4 linked regions of the Homo sapiens genome follow. The protein of the gene in region 1 purifies or fractionates together with the protein of each later gene. This does not show direct contact. Each region holds a gene or a part of one and is shown on either strand. Other genes may lie near its edges.

What was found.
Region 2: the proteins of FAM167A (region 1) and NYNRIN purify together in Homo sapiens (co-immunoprecipitation; 3 studies listed by BioGRID and IntAct, with this or other methods). This does not show direct contact.
Region 3: the proteins of FAM167A (region 1) and NES purify together in Homo sapiens (co-immunoprecipitation; 3 studies listed by BioGRID and IntAct, with this or other methods). This does not show direct contact.
Region 4: the proteins of FAM167A (region 1) and CEP44 purify together in Homo sapiens (co-immunoprecipitation; 3 studies listed by BioGRID and IntAct, with this or other methods). This does not show direct contact.

The regions. Positions count from the first base shown.
Region 1 is NC_000008.11:11,421,513-11,425,471, reverse strand, and holds part of FAM167A (protein FAM167A), read left to right. Parts: intron 1-835; coding exon 836-1,099; 3' UTR 1,100-3,959.
Region 2 is NC_000014.9:24,409,003-24,412,502, forward strand, and holds part of NYNRIN (protein NYNRIN), read left to right. Parts: coding exon 1-1,206; intron 1,207-2,073; coding exon 2,074-2,204; intron 2,205-2,351; coding exon 2,352-2,448; intron 2,449-2,454; exon of another isoform or gene 2,455-3,500.
Region 3 is NC_000001.11:156,668,263-156,671,335, reverse strand, and holds the end of NES (nestin), read left to right. Parts: coding exon 1-2,014; 3' UTR 2,015-2,573; downstream 2,574-3,073. UniProt on the Homo sapiens protein: Required for brain and eye development.
Region 4 is NC_000004.12:174,311,411-174,314,910, forward strand, and holds part of CEP44 (centrosomal protein of 44 kDa), read left to right. Parts: intron 1-3,500. UniProt on the Homo sapiens protein: Centriole-enriched microtubule-binding protein involved in centriole biogenesis. In collaboration with CEP295 and POC1B, is required for the centriole-to-centrosome conversion by ensuring the formation of bona fide centriole wall.

The DNA of each region.
Region 1 (3,959 bases):
CTGCTAGCTCCATACACCACACTGCAGCTCGTCCTTGAGCAGCAGAACTTCATTGTCAGTCATTTTGGTTCTGGAGTCCAGCTGTCCGGCTTCCTCATCCCAGCTCGGCTGTGGATGAGCTTTGTGAGCCGACACAGCTAATTCCCTGGCTGTGCCTCTGTGTCCTCCTCTATAAGCTGTGGGTGATGATGGTGACATCACTTCACAGGTTGTAGTGACGGTTAACTGTTGCATGTTAATAGACCCAAAGGCCTTAGAACTGTTTCATAATAAAACACCCAGTACCTAGGAACCAATTTTTGTTTGGCTGTTTTGAAACTTTACTAAGAAATATTTCAGGCATTCTAAAACGTTTAAAGAGTAATGTAACAACATGACACTCCCCAGCGTAAGAAAGAAAACATGGCCATCACAGTCAAAGCCCCCATATACCTTTCCCAATCACAGTCCCTCCTTCTCACCTAGAGGCAACCATCCTCCTGAATTTGATAGCTGTTACCCTATGTTTTCCTTTATACTCTTACTCCATCTAAATGAAACTCTAAACAATGAGAAAGCACTGGAAGTATCTTCTAGCCAGGACCAATATGCATGTCTTTCAGAAGGACTTAGATACAGCAACTAGCCTAGCACAAAGTATTGTTTTGCGACCGCACCCTCATTTGTCACCTTGCTTTCTGTGTCTTTTCACCTCCCTGAGCAGGGAAAGTGCTAATATTTCTAGATGGACCACTTAATGAACTAAGACATTAGTCAGGGCCCTGCTAACCAGTCTGTGCCTGTCAGGGACTCGAGCCACTCTCTGCTGACCCTGCCTGCTCCCCCTCCCTTCCAGACGGAGATGCGGCTGCAGGACCAGCAACTGGCCAGACAGCTCATGCGCCTGCGTGGCGACATCAACAAGCTGAAAATCGAACACACCTGCCGCCTCCACAGGAGGATGCTCAACGATGCCACCTACGAGCTGGAGGAGCGGGATGAGCTGGCCGACCTCTTCTGTGACTCCCCTCTTGCCTCCTCCTTCAGCCTCTCCACACCACTCAAGCTTATTGGCGTGACCAAGATGAACATCAACTCTCGGAGGTTCTCTCTCTGCTGAGGAGCCCTCAGACTGGGCGGAGGGGCTGGAGCGGAGGGCTTGGGCTGGAGGGGTGTCAGAGGAAGCTGAGGCCAAGTTACTCCAGTGGGTCTCCCGGAGGCAGGGGTCCCTGGGACTGGCGACTCAAGGGCCCCAGGACCTATTCAGTGGTGCTCTCCCACCCAGGGGCCCTGGGTGTGGATGCCAGTGTCTCTGTGACTGGCTCTTGCTTACTACCCAAAGAGCTCTGCAGAAGGGCCGCTCCAACCAAGATGTTAAAGGAGACCTGGGTTCCCACCATAATCCATCCCTCCACGGTCACGTTCCTGTTTCCTGGAATCACTGGTGCTATGAACTGGGATTCCCAAAGGGAGGCCCCCCAACAAAGCTGTCATTTTTGCAGAAGGCTGTCCCGCAAGGGCCTTGGGGGAAATTAGGCATGTCAGATGTGCCTGTCTCACGTGCTGTTGCTGTCCTCTAAGTATTGTCTCAAATTCACCCTAAGTACATGACTCAGCAACATTGACAGGGAGCTACTAGGAAGGGAAAATCGAAAGGCATGACAAATGGGCACTTGGGGACGCAGCCCCAGTGGCTGGCAGCCAGTGTCTCTGGTGAGCCTGACACTATAAGGCTGTGTAAATTGTAAATTCTGGCGTGTGCTGGGACATGTGATGGGGGCACTAGCGTAGCTTGGGTGCAACAAGCACAGATGTCCCCATTGTCTCCCCTGGCCACATGCATCTCCAAAGAGCCTCTTCACTGCCACCCACACCCCAGGGTGACAGCCTGGGAGACCACTGGTGACTGAACCAGGCAGGTCCTGAAAGCATTTTCCATAACTGAATTCTCCTGCAGGGGCGTGACCGGGGCCTCCTGGTGGATTCTGGTGGTGTCACCTTACTGCCCTCTCTGGAAAGACAATCTAGGGAGCCCAGAGGCCCATCCTGAGCCTCCTCTGAGATTTTGTGCCTGACCTAAACAACTAGTTTTAATAAGACTGTTACTGATGTGTTGTTCACTTGTTAGTAACTGATTTTTGTCCAAATGCGGAAGCCACTTGTGTAGGTCAACTACAGTGCGTAGGATTTGATTTTAAGAGTTTCTCCCTCCCAACAGGCTTGAGGATCAGCAAGTTAAGACCCCAGCAGGTTAGGGAGGTCAGTCTGGGGTCATACGGCATGGCAGGGGTCCCTCGGCCAGACCCGTAGAATCCTGAGATAAGGAGTGTTTCTGACCTTTGGTGTCATCTAGTCGAGTCCTCTCATTAGTAAAGGAGCAAAGTGAAACCTGGGGGAGGAGAAGGACTTCCCTCAGGTTGCACAGCTGTTTAGGCTATAGAATATTGATGTGTGAAACCATTATTGATAATGCCTAGTAGATCACATGTCAATGAACTTGAACCCCAAAGATGGTCGTGATGCTTTGCCAAACCCGCACACTGCCAACCCCTCTACTCTCCACCTCAGCCCCCACCCACATCTCCCAGAGTATTGCAATTCAGAACATTTGGGTCAAGGTGGAGCAAGGCACTGACAGTGGCCCCACAGGGCATGTGTCACTAATCACTGTCCCATGGTCTACGCACGGCATCTGGCTGCTCTGTCTACTGTGACTTCTTCCTGTGTAATCTCAGTGGGGCCCGTGTCCACCCACACATCGTGACCCACATAGGGGAGAGGTTGCTTTTCTTTTGTGGGCTGAGAGTAGGACAATGCAAATGAATGATCTCTAGTAGACAGAAAAGAACTTGGTCTCTTTTTTAAAATTTCAAAGAGCCAGAAGTTCTATGCCTCCTTCAAAGTAGGCAGAACAACGCAGCCAAGATCTACTGTCTGCCATGCTCTGTGCAATGAAGTCTGCAGGCCTGAGGACCATGTACTGCTGTCCTTCCTCAGAGCTCTGCACAAACACTGCCAAGTCCTGAAGACGCATTCCTTTCCTGCCAACCTCTTTCCAGATAAGCCCTTGAGGTCTCGGGCTGACCTACACACACACACACACACACACACACACACACCCCCACACACACACACACGACAGAGAACATGCCATAAACATCCTTGAACCCATGCAGGAAAGCCCATCCCATATTCTGAAAAAATGCCAAATTAGGTTTTTCTTTCTTTTTGGAAATCAGTCATTACAGTAACCGAAACCATTGGGTTCAGCGAAAATGGAAAGATTTAGCTGAATGTAGTCAGTCCAATTAAGTTGGATGCAACTGAGTGATTTAGTTGCTTGGGTAACCCAGTGCTTGCTTGCTTTCTTCATTCTCTGGGTGGAAACTAAGATCAAGACACATGTTTGGGGATAAGTTAAATGTCTGAGCTATTTTGCTCGGTTTATCCTAAGAGAACTTTATTATGGGATGAGGAGGTGACCCAAGATGAGAAGTGGAGGGGGACAGCGATGTTTTCTAAACATCGTCCAGTGTTGACTGGCTTCCTTACTTTGCACAGTGAACACAACTAACCACATTAATTCAGCTTTGTGAAGTCCCTGCTCTCTGTGGGTCTATGAGTCAGCAGCAACATTGGCCTAACCTCCGTCCCAGCCTCCTGGCTCACCACATGTGTACAGTGCTGTTTGCAGTTGTACTCATTATCCATCCATCTCTCTGCCATCCCCAAGCATCGCTGGGTGTAAAACGCAAACTCTCCACCGACACTGCCATGCGTGGTCATGTCTTGATGCCTTCAGGGGCTCAGTAGCTATCAAAGAGGCCTGGAGGGCCTGGGCAGGCTTGACGATGCCTGACCGAGTTCAAGACCCACACCCTGTAGCAATACCAAGTGCTATTACATAATCAATGGACGATTTATACTTTTATTTTTTATGATTATTTGTTTCTATATTGCTGTTAGAAAAAGTGAAATAA
Region 2 (3,500 bases), on another chromosome or scaffold:
GCTGCCAGGGCAGAATCCTTTGCCCTTAAATCTGGAGTGGAAGCAGAAGGAGCTGGCTCCTCTGCCTAGTGCAGAAAGCCCAGCTGGTAGACCAGATGGGGGGCTGGGAGGAGAAGCAGCCCTGCAGAATTGCCCAAGGCCAGAGATTTCCCCAAAAGTTACGAGTTTATTGGTGGTCCCTGGGAGCTCAGATGTAAAAGACAAAGTTAGCTCGGATCTCCCACAGATAGGGCCACCCTTGACCTCTACACCCCAACTACAGGCTGGAGGTGAGCCGGGGGATCAAGGGAGTATGCAGTTAGATTTTAAGGGACTGGAAGAGGGACCCGCTCCAGTGCTGCCAACAGGGCAAGGGAAGCCCGTGGCTCAAGGGGGGCTGACAGATCAGTCAGTACCTGGAGCTCAAACAGTGCCTGAAACTCTCAAAGTGCCCATGGCTGCAGCAGTGCCCAAAGCTGAAAATCCCTCCAGAACTCAAGTGCCATCTGCAGCTCCCAAACTGCCTACATCTCGAATGATGCTGGCAGTGCACACAGAGCCTGCAGCTCCCGAAGTGCCTTTGGCTCCAACAAAGCCAACAGCTCAACTGATGGCCACAGCTCAAAAAACAGTTGTGAATCAACCAGTGTTGGTAGCTCAAGTGGAACCCACAACTCCAAAAACTCCCCAGGCTCAGAAGATGCCTGTAGCAAAAACATCACCTGCAGGTCCCAAAACACCCAAAGCTCAAGCCGGGCCTGCAGCTACAGTTTCCAAAGCACCTGCAGCTTCCAAAGCACCTGCAGCTCCCAAAGTACCTGTGACCCCCAGAGTCTCCAGAGCTCCCAAAACACCTGCAGCTCAGAAGGTGCCCACGGATGCAGGGCCAACCTTGGATGTAGCCAGACTTCTGAGTGAGGTCCAGCCTACATCAAGGGCTAGTGTCTCCTTACTGAAGGGCCAGGGGCAGGCTGGAAGGCAGGGTCCCCAGTCCAGTGGCACCTTGGCCCTCAGCAGTAAGCACCAGTTTCAGATGGAGGGGCTCCTGGGGGCTTGGGAGGGGGCCCCAAGGCAGCCACCTCGCCACCTGCAAGCGAACAGCACAGTGACCAGCTTCCAGAGGTACCACGAGGCCCTGAATACACCCTTCGAGCTGAACCTGTCAGGGGAACCTGGAAACCAGGGGTTGCGGCGAGTGGTCATCGATGGCAGCAGTGTGGCCATGGTGTGAGTAGTCACGGGCGTGGGGTGGGCTGGGGATGCTGTGGACCTGGGGCAGGGCATCCCTGGGGGACAGAATGTGGGCATCCCTTCCCAACCTTCCTATGGGCGACATGGGGAAGAGATGGGAGGGAAGTGGTCCATCCATGTTGAATGGCTCCTGCGTGCCAGGCAGTGTGCATGGAATCCTCATAGCAGCCCTCAAGGGCAGGTTTCTGGTTTCCCTGTCTGATAGATGCTGAAGCAGGCTCAGAGGTGGGAAATCTTGCCCAAGATCCCTGAGCCAGCAAGGGGTCCAGCTGGCCTTTTGGCTCAGATGTGTCCACTGCCAAGGTCCATGCCCTTCCCAGGCCAGCTTTTAAACTTTTAGCCCAAACTTCAAGGCCCAGCACAGATTTCTTTTCCTGACTCTGCTGGCCCTTAGCGATTGCCCTTCCTCCACAGTACTTACTGCTGTAGAGGTGTTAGCATAAACATGTGCATGCCACATAATTTGCCACATGATAGAGTAGTTATCTGTGCAGAGCACACTCCCAGCACACTGTCGGTGGCCAGGGAATTTTTGTTTGCTTTAAGCCCTCAACTGAGCTCTCTGAGTGGAGGGGCTGCCTTCTTCCTCTTGCCCTCAATGTCCCTACACACATGCGTACACACAGGTACATGCACACACACACACACATGCACGCGCACACACACAGAGTTTCTGGCAGTGCCCTGCACCAAGTAGGTGCTCACAGAATGTCTGAGTATGGAGGGAAGGGGAGAGGGCATCATTGGTGTCCTTGGTGCTGGCATTGCTTGCTTGCTGCCCCAGGGCTGGCTCTGAGGGAGGAGTGGTGAGGCAGGGTCTTTCCTTGTCCCACGACCCCACAGGCATGGCCTGCAGCACTTCTTCTCCTGCCGAGGAATTGCCATGGCAGTGCAGTTTTTCTGGAACCGGGGACACCGAGAGGTCACTGTGTTTGTACCCACCTGGCAGCTGAAGAAGAACCGGAGGGTGAGAGGTGAGGTGTCCCCTGCCTGCCCAGCCTCCACAGTGTCACCAAGCTTTCTTCTCTCTGCCTTGCTGCCCCGACCCTCTGCCACCCCAGAGTGGCCATTTCCACTTAGCCCTCCCTTGACCATTTCTGTCTTCTGCCTTTCACCCCCAGAGAGCCACTTTCTGACGAAGCTACACTCGCTCAAGATGCTTTCAATCACACCCTCCCAGCTTGAGAATGGCAAGAAGATCACCACCTACGATTATAGGTGTGCCGGTCCCCAGGCCTGCCCTCCTGGGCTCAGGGAGTTGGGCCTGGCTGGTGTGTCAGGTGGAGTCCGGCCTGTCTTCTCTGGGGAAATGGAGGCAAACATGTTGGGGGTGTCGGTTGTGCAGAGGGTGGGGTGGAGCACGGGCATCTGTCAGCAGAGGGATGGGCACATTGAGGAAAGGGCTTGAGGTTGGCTCTCCCCAAGCCCGGAGTTGTTTCTGACTTTGGGACTCTGGAGTCCGTCTGCCTTAGCTAACAGGCATTCTTCCCCCATGACCTGTGAACATCAGAGAGGTTCCCCAGGGTTTTGGGTGCCCGTTTCGGTTGAGGCTCATGTCTCCAGACTGCTTTAGTCTTTTCCTCCCTCGGAGCCCCGGCACTGGTGGAGGTCTGTGCATGGCTGATGTGGATGGAGCCCTGGGCAGGGCTCTGGAAAAGGAGAGCCCTGAATGCCTAAACCCTGAATGCTTGCCTGCTTGTCAATCCTAAGCGCCCACCCCTCAGCATGGCTGCAGGACCTCTGTGCTCAGGGGAAGCCTGTGACCCTGCCTCTCTTAGGGCAGGGAAGGCCCTGGCATAGTCACTGGTCCTGGGTTGGAGTTGATGCTGGGCGGACAGAGATCTTGGTTTCACATAGGCAACTCTCATGCCAGGCAGGGAGAAGTTCTGTTTCTCCACACTCTTCCCAAGACCTGGCACCCAACCAGGCCTGGGAAGGGCTGGGCAGAGAACCTCACTCATCCCTCCTTGTAGAGCTGGTCCCCTCCATTGAGTCTTCAAGTGCCTTTAAGTTCAGGCGTGGGTTTGATGGAAGATGGCTTTTCCGCAGACCGTCCCTCTGCTGGGCACTTGAAGAGTAGCATGCTTTGGGGAGCCCGAATGGAAAGTTTCAGGGACTACTGAGAAGTAGGTAGCCTTTGCTTTCTTTCCTGGTCACAGCCCTCTTTAGAGGAGAGGTGATCCTTGGAAAAGTGGATTTGTTTATTCAGGTATGTGTGCTTATATGTGTTAGCGTATATATGTCTGTATGTCTTGGCATGTATATGAATA
Region 3 (3,073 bases), on another chromosome or scaffold:
GGAAGATACGGTGGAGAAGGACCAAGAACTGGCTCAGGAAAGCCCTCCTGGGATGGCTGGAGTGGAAAATGAGGATGAGGCAGAGCTGAATCTGAGGGAGCAGGATGGCTTCACTGGGAAGGAGGAGGTGGTAGAGCAGGGAGAGCTGAATGCCACAGAGGAGGTCTGGATCCCAGGCGAGGGGCACCCAGAGAGCCCTGAGCCCAAAGAGCAGAGAGGCCTGGTTGAGGGAGCCAGTGTGAAGGGAGGGGCTGAGGGCCTCCAGGACCCTGAAGGGCAATCACAACAGGTGGGGGCCCCAGGCCTCCAGGCTCCCCAGGGGCTGCCAGAGGCGATAGAGCCCCTGGTGGAAGATGATGTGGCCCCAGGGGGTGACCAAGCCTCCCCAGAGGTCATGTTGGGGTCAGAGCCTGCCATGGGTGAGTCTGCTGCGGGAGCTGAGCCAGGCCCGGGGCAGGGGGTGGGAGGGCTGGGGGACCCAGGCCATCTGACCAGGGAAGAGGTGATGGAACCACCCCTGGAAGAGGAGAGTTTGGAGGCAAAGAGGGTTCAGGGCTTGGAAGGGCCTAGAAAGGACCTAGAGGAGGCAGGTGGTCTGGGGACAGAGTTCTCCGAGCTGCCTGGGAAGAGCAGAGACCCTTGGGAGCCTCCCAGGGAGGGTAGGGAGGAGTCAGAGGCTGAGGCCCCCAGGGGAGCAGAGGAGGCGTTCCCTGCTGAGACCCTGGGCCACACTGGAAGTGATGCCCCTTCACCTTGGCCTCTGGGGTCAGAGGAAGCTGAGGAGGATGTACCACCAGTGCTGGTCTCCCCCAGCCCAACGTACACCCCGATCCTGGAAGATGCCCCTGGGCCTCAGCCTCAGGCTGAAGGGAGTCAGGAGGCTAGCTGGGGGGTGCAGGGGAGGGCTGAAGCCCTGGGGAAAGTAGAGAGCGAGCAGGAGGAGTTGGGTTCTGGGGAGATCCCCGAGGGCCCCCAGGAGGAAGGGGAGGAGAGCAGAGAAGAGAGCGAGGAGGATGAGCTCGGGGAGACCCTTCCAGACTCCACTCCCCTGGGCTTCTACCTCAGGTCCCCCACCTCCCCCAGGTGGGACCCCACTGGAGAGCAGAGGCCACCCCCTCAAGGGGAGACTGGAAAGGAGGGCTGGGATCCTGCTGTCCTGGCTTCCGAGGGCCTTGAGGCCCCACCCTCAGAAAAGGAGGAGGGGGAGGAGGGAGAAGAGGAGTGTGGCCGTGACTCTGACCTGTCAGAAGAATTTGAGGACCTGGGGACTGAGGCACCTTTTCTTCCTGGGGTCCCTGGGGAGGTGGCAGAACCTCTGGGCCAGGTGCCCCAGCTGCTACTGGATCCTGCAGCCTGGGATCGAGATGGGGAGTCCGATGGGTTTGCAGATGAGGAAGAAAGTGGGGAGGAGGGAGAGGAGGATCAGGAGGAGGGGAGGGAGCCAGGGGCTGGGCGGTGGGGGCCAGGGTCTTCTGTTGGCAGCCTCCAGGCCCTGAGTAGCTCCCAGAGAGGGGAATTCCTGGAGTCTGATTCTGTGAGTGTCAGTGTCCCCTGGGATGACAGCTTGAGGGGTGCAGTGGCTGGTGCCCCCAAGACTGCCCTGGAAACGGAGTCCCAGGACAGTGCTGAGCCTTCTGGCTCAGAGGAAGAGTCTGACCCTGTTTCCTTGGAGAGGGAGGACAAAGTCCCTGGCCCTCTAGAGATCCCCAGTGGGATGGAGGATGCAGGCCCAGGGGCAGACATCATTGGTGTTAATGGCCAGGGTCCCAACTTGGAGGGGAAGTCACAGCATGTGAATGGGGGAGTGATGAACGGGCTGGAGCAGTCTGAGGAAGTGGGGCAAGGAATGCCGCTAGTCTCTGAGGGAGACCGAGGGAGCCCCTTTCAGGAGGAGGAGGGGAGTGCTCTGAAGACCTCTTGGGCAGGGGCTCCTGTTCACCTGGGCCAGGGTCAGTTCCTGAAGTTCACTCAGAGGGAAGGAGATAGAGAGTCCTGGTCCTCAGGGGAGGACTAGGAAAAGACCATCTGCCCGGCACTGGGGACTTAGGGGTGCGGGGAGGGGAAGGACGCCTCCAAGCCCGCTCCCTGCTCAGGAGCAGCACTCTTAACTTACGATCTCTTGACATATGGTTTCTGGCTGAGAGGCCTGGCCCGCTAAGGTGAAAAGGGGTGTGGCAAAGGAGCCTACTCCAAGAATGGAGGCTGTAGGAATATAACCTCCCACCCTGCAAAGGGAATCTCTTGCCTGCTCCATCTCATAGGCTAAGTCAGCTGAATCCCGATAGTACTAGGTCCCCTTCCCTCCGCATCCCGTCAGCTGGAAAAGGCCTGTGGCCCAGAGGCTTCTCCAAAGGGAGGGTGACATGCTGGCTTTTGTGCCCAAGCTCACCAGCCCTGCGCCACCTCACTGCAGTAGTGCACCATCTCACTGCAGTAGCACGCCCTCCTGGGCCGTCTGGCCTGTGGCTAATGGAGGTGACGGCACTCCCATGTGCTGACTCCCCCCATCCCTGCCACGCTGTGGCCCTGCCTGGCTAGTCCCTGCCTGAATAAAGTAATGCCTCCGCTTCAAAGTCTGGACTCTTCTTTCCCCCACTCAGAGGGGACCCTCAGGGTTAGTACAGGAGAGAGATGGCGGGGGCGGGCGGGGGGTGGCGGGGGAGAGGAGGAAGCTGGTGCTGGGGAGGGGCTGCCTCCTGAGGAGAGGAGGACCTGGGGGGATGAGGGCAGACAGACCCAAGCTGCAGGGAGCAGTGCTGGGGCCTGGGGAGGGCCAGGGGCTGTTGCTTGGCTGGGGGAGGCCAGTCCAGGTGACCTCAGCGCCTGCAGAAGCCAGGCCCATCATCATCTCTGCCCACAGTACTGATTACAGGGATTAGGCCTTGGGGCCACCCCCACCCTTGTATACCCCCCCCCATTAGTGCCTTGGTGCCGCCAGCATAATAAGCCCCCTTGTCTCTAAACCCAAACAAGTTGTCTGGCCTGATCTCCTCAGCCTGACTGGGTGGGAGCAGGGTGAGGGAAGAGGCAGGCCTGTTCTTCCTCAGTCTGGCTGCATGGCCTCAGGTCAGCA
Region 4 (3,500 bases), on another chromosome or scaffold:
CTTTGTTTTGATTGTTATGTATTTTTAAAAGATCTAAATTTTGTGCCATATCTATGATTAAATCATAGCTATAGAAGAGATGTTTTGTCCAATTGAGAATTCATCGTTAAGTTAAATTTTTAATATCTGTGGATTGTTAACGTTATAAAATCTTTCAGCTCTACTATATGTGTAACAATAAAATAATATATATTCTAGCACTAACAGTGTGCCTGGCACGATTCTAACTACTATATTAACTCATTTAATTCTTGAAGTAACCATTGCAAGATAAGTACTATTTTTATATTTTACAGTTGAGGAAACTGAAGTACAGCAAAATTAAGTAACTACAGCAAAGGTCACACAGTTATTGAATTGTAGATCAAATTTGAATCCAGGCAACTGATCTGAAGTTTTTTCTTGACTGCTGCATATTTGGAGCACATATCAATATCATTGCACAAAGAACAATTTCAGTGATTAGCTTGTTAAGTATAATTATTTGAGATGCTATTTAAGGCAACTAAATTTATTATAGGCTGCAGATTTCAGATTTGGTAAAATGTTGCCTGTTTTATTTATCCATTCATATATCTATTCAACAAATGTTAATGCTTGAGTATAAGATCCTTGAGAGCAAAAACTTTATCTTATGGTCTGCCTGTCTAGCACACAGAAAGTATGTCGGTGCTTTTATCACCAGTATTTGCATATAGTAGAGTTTAAATATTTATTCACTGAAAGAATATTGAATGCTTGTGATTTGCAAAACATTGCCTTTTTCAAGTTTGATTTTGCATGCTCAGGCTTATTTTTTTTTAATGACATGATTATAGAATATACCTTTAACCTATTTAGAAAACACATGGCTAAGTTTTTTTTTTTTAATTTTTTAATTTTTTTGAGATAAGTGTGGTCTTACTCTGCTGCTCAGGCTGGAGTGCAGTGGTGCAATCATAGCTCACTGCAGTCTCCTAGATGTTAACTCCTTGGCTTAAAGTGATCCTCCTTTCTCAGCCTCCTGAGTAGCTGGGACTACAGGTACGTGCCACCACACCTGGATAATTTTTTATTTATTTACATACTGTTTTTAGTAAAACAAGGTCTTGCTATGTTGCTCAGGCTGGTCTTGAACTCCTGGGCTCAAGCAATCCTCCCATCTCTGCTTCTCAAAGTACTGGGATTACAGGTGTGAGTTAACATGTCCGGGTTCACATAGCTAAATTTCAACAACTGTGCCAGGACTGAAAGTAATTAACAGGCCTCTATCTGAAATGGATTACAGATTATGATTAGGTTGAATACCTGGTCTCATAGAGTTTATGATCTGATCTAGATTAATTAAAAGACTCAAGTTTATAAAGACTTACACATTATACCTTATACATGCTACTTGGAAATAGGGTTTGATTTCATTTGAATGCAGAGAGCAATAATTTACTACTCTGGGTTTAGGATCATATTAAATCAGGAATAGTTTTTGTGAGGTTCCAGATTTGTTTTGCCTTTATCAGGAATACAGTGTTCCATGGGGAATTGTAAGGCACCTTAATGTCTTGGTAAGAGTGAATTAGCAGAGGCTTTTAGGGATTGGACTTGTGTTGGATAATTTTGGAGAGGGTTTGAGGAAGCAAGGGCTACGGGTGCTGTCAGGGAGCAGGAGCAATTTGATGATTGATGGTAAGAATGAAATTTTTAGCATAAAATAAGTACTCATGTTAGGCAAGGGGGGCTATATCTGCTCATTTATGTGGTTACATGGTGCCCTTGTTTTGTCTATGTTCGGACATGAATGGTGGTTTTGGGTGTGTTGTTTCATTATGCTAATGAAGTGACCTCATGTGATGTTCTTTTTCATGAAATTATTTATATTCATTAGAGGGTACAGTAGTTTAGGTGTTAATTGCCAGACAGGGCACCAACTGTTAGTGCTCCTTTTTTATTTGCTTGTTTGTTTCGCTTTGTTTTGTGCCTTTTTTCCCTCAGAGGAAAAAAAAAAAAAAGGTGTGCTACCACAGAAGAGTGTGGTTTGTTCCTGTGTGACTAGCAGGAAGGGTACATGTGAGCACCTGAAGGAAGCTGTAGCAGAAGAGTAGAAAGATCAAGTCATGGAGTTTATCCCAGAGTCGTAGGAAGATTTTCAGCAAGGCTAATATTCTTAGGTTTGTGTTTCACAAAGGTTATCATCAAAGCAGAATAGTGATTTGTTAGGAAAGTAAGATAGGCAAGGATAATTTGAAGAGAATTTTAGTAGTCATTATTTCAGAATAATAATGAGGGTCTCTACTAAGGCAATGATAGTGAGGATAAAGAGCAGGTGATTTATTTGGGAGAAATTTAGATGTTAAAATTGATATGCCTTGATCCTGATAGATACAAAAAGGGTGAAGGAGAGTAAGGAAGGTAACACTGACTACTTGTGTTTGGCTCATGTGATTGGGTAGGTGATTGTTACTCTTTAATAAAATAAAAAATTCAGGAAGAGGAGAAGGTTTGGGAGAAATAATGAGTTCACTTTTGAATATAATAAATTATATATGAAATCCTTAAGACAGAATATCTAGAAATCAGTTGGATACATACATTGGTCCTTGATTTAGAAGTATTGGCTTACAAATTATTAAATGGTAAAGGACCCTACTGATTCCCTTCGTGGAATAAGGTGATAAGCCTCCAAAGATGGCAGTGAAAGATTAGTTGTTACGTGGTAAGAGTTGGGTAGAAGATTTCATGTCCCATACCCCCATAATCTTAGAAGTAGAAGAGTCCCTTTCTTTACAGAGACTTCTTAGCAGTCACTACTGAAGTACATAACAACTGGTGTCAGGGTCCTTGTGTCAGTGGCCATTGCCTTTCCCCTTTCCTTTCCAACCTGAACTCAGTTACCAATTCTTTTCTCAATCCCCTATAGCACAGCTAAGAAACTATTAATGTTTAAACAAGTAAGGCTTTACTAAAGGTTCAGGATAGCAATAAGAAAAAATATAGAAATTAATGTGCAGTTAACTGATCTGGCTATTAAATATAGCTGGTGTTCTGTAATGGTCCACTCTGTAGCCTCTGGAATCCTCTGTAGGAATAACTATGAATAGCCTGCCAGCCTGCCAAATACCAGCTTTCTCCCACCATGAGGCACACTCTTGAATAAGGTTAGACACCGCAAAGTCTGGACCCCAAAATGGAAGACAAAGAGAGCCATTCCTTCACCCTTTATCTGTCTTCCCGGACCTGTTTCCTTTTCCTAGGGCCCCCTCCTCTTTTTGGAAAGATGTCCGAAATGTTCAGGACAACTATCTGTACCCACAGAAAAAAATCCAAGATTTAGTGCATAGTAGATATAGTTCCTGCCTAATTTCAAATTATTTCTTAAAATAACCTCTTGTCCATAGCTCCTACTAAAAGATCTGGGTTTAGGTAGTCTTCAGAATTACACCCTGTAATCTTGACCTCCAGGCTTAGCTAATTGGATTAAGAGTAGACACCTGACCCAGAGAATTCCAGTTCAAAGTGTGATGAGT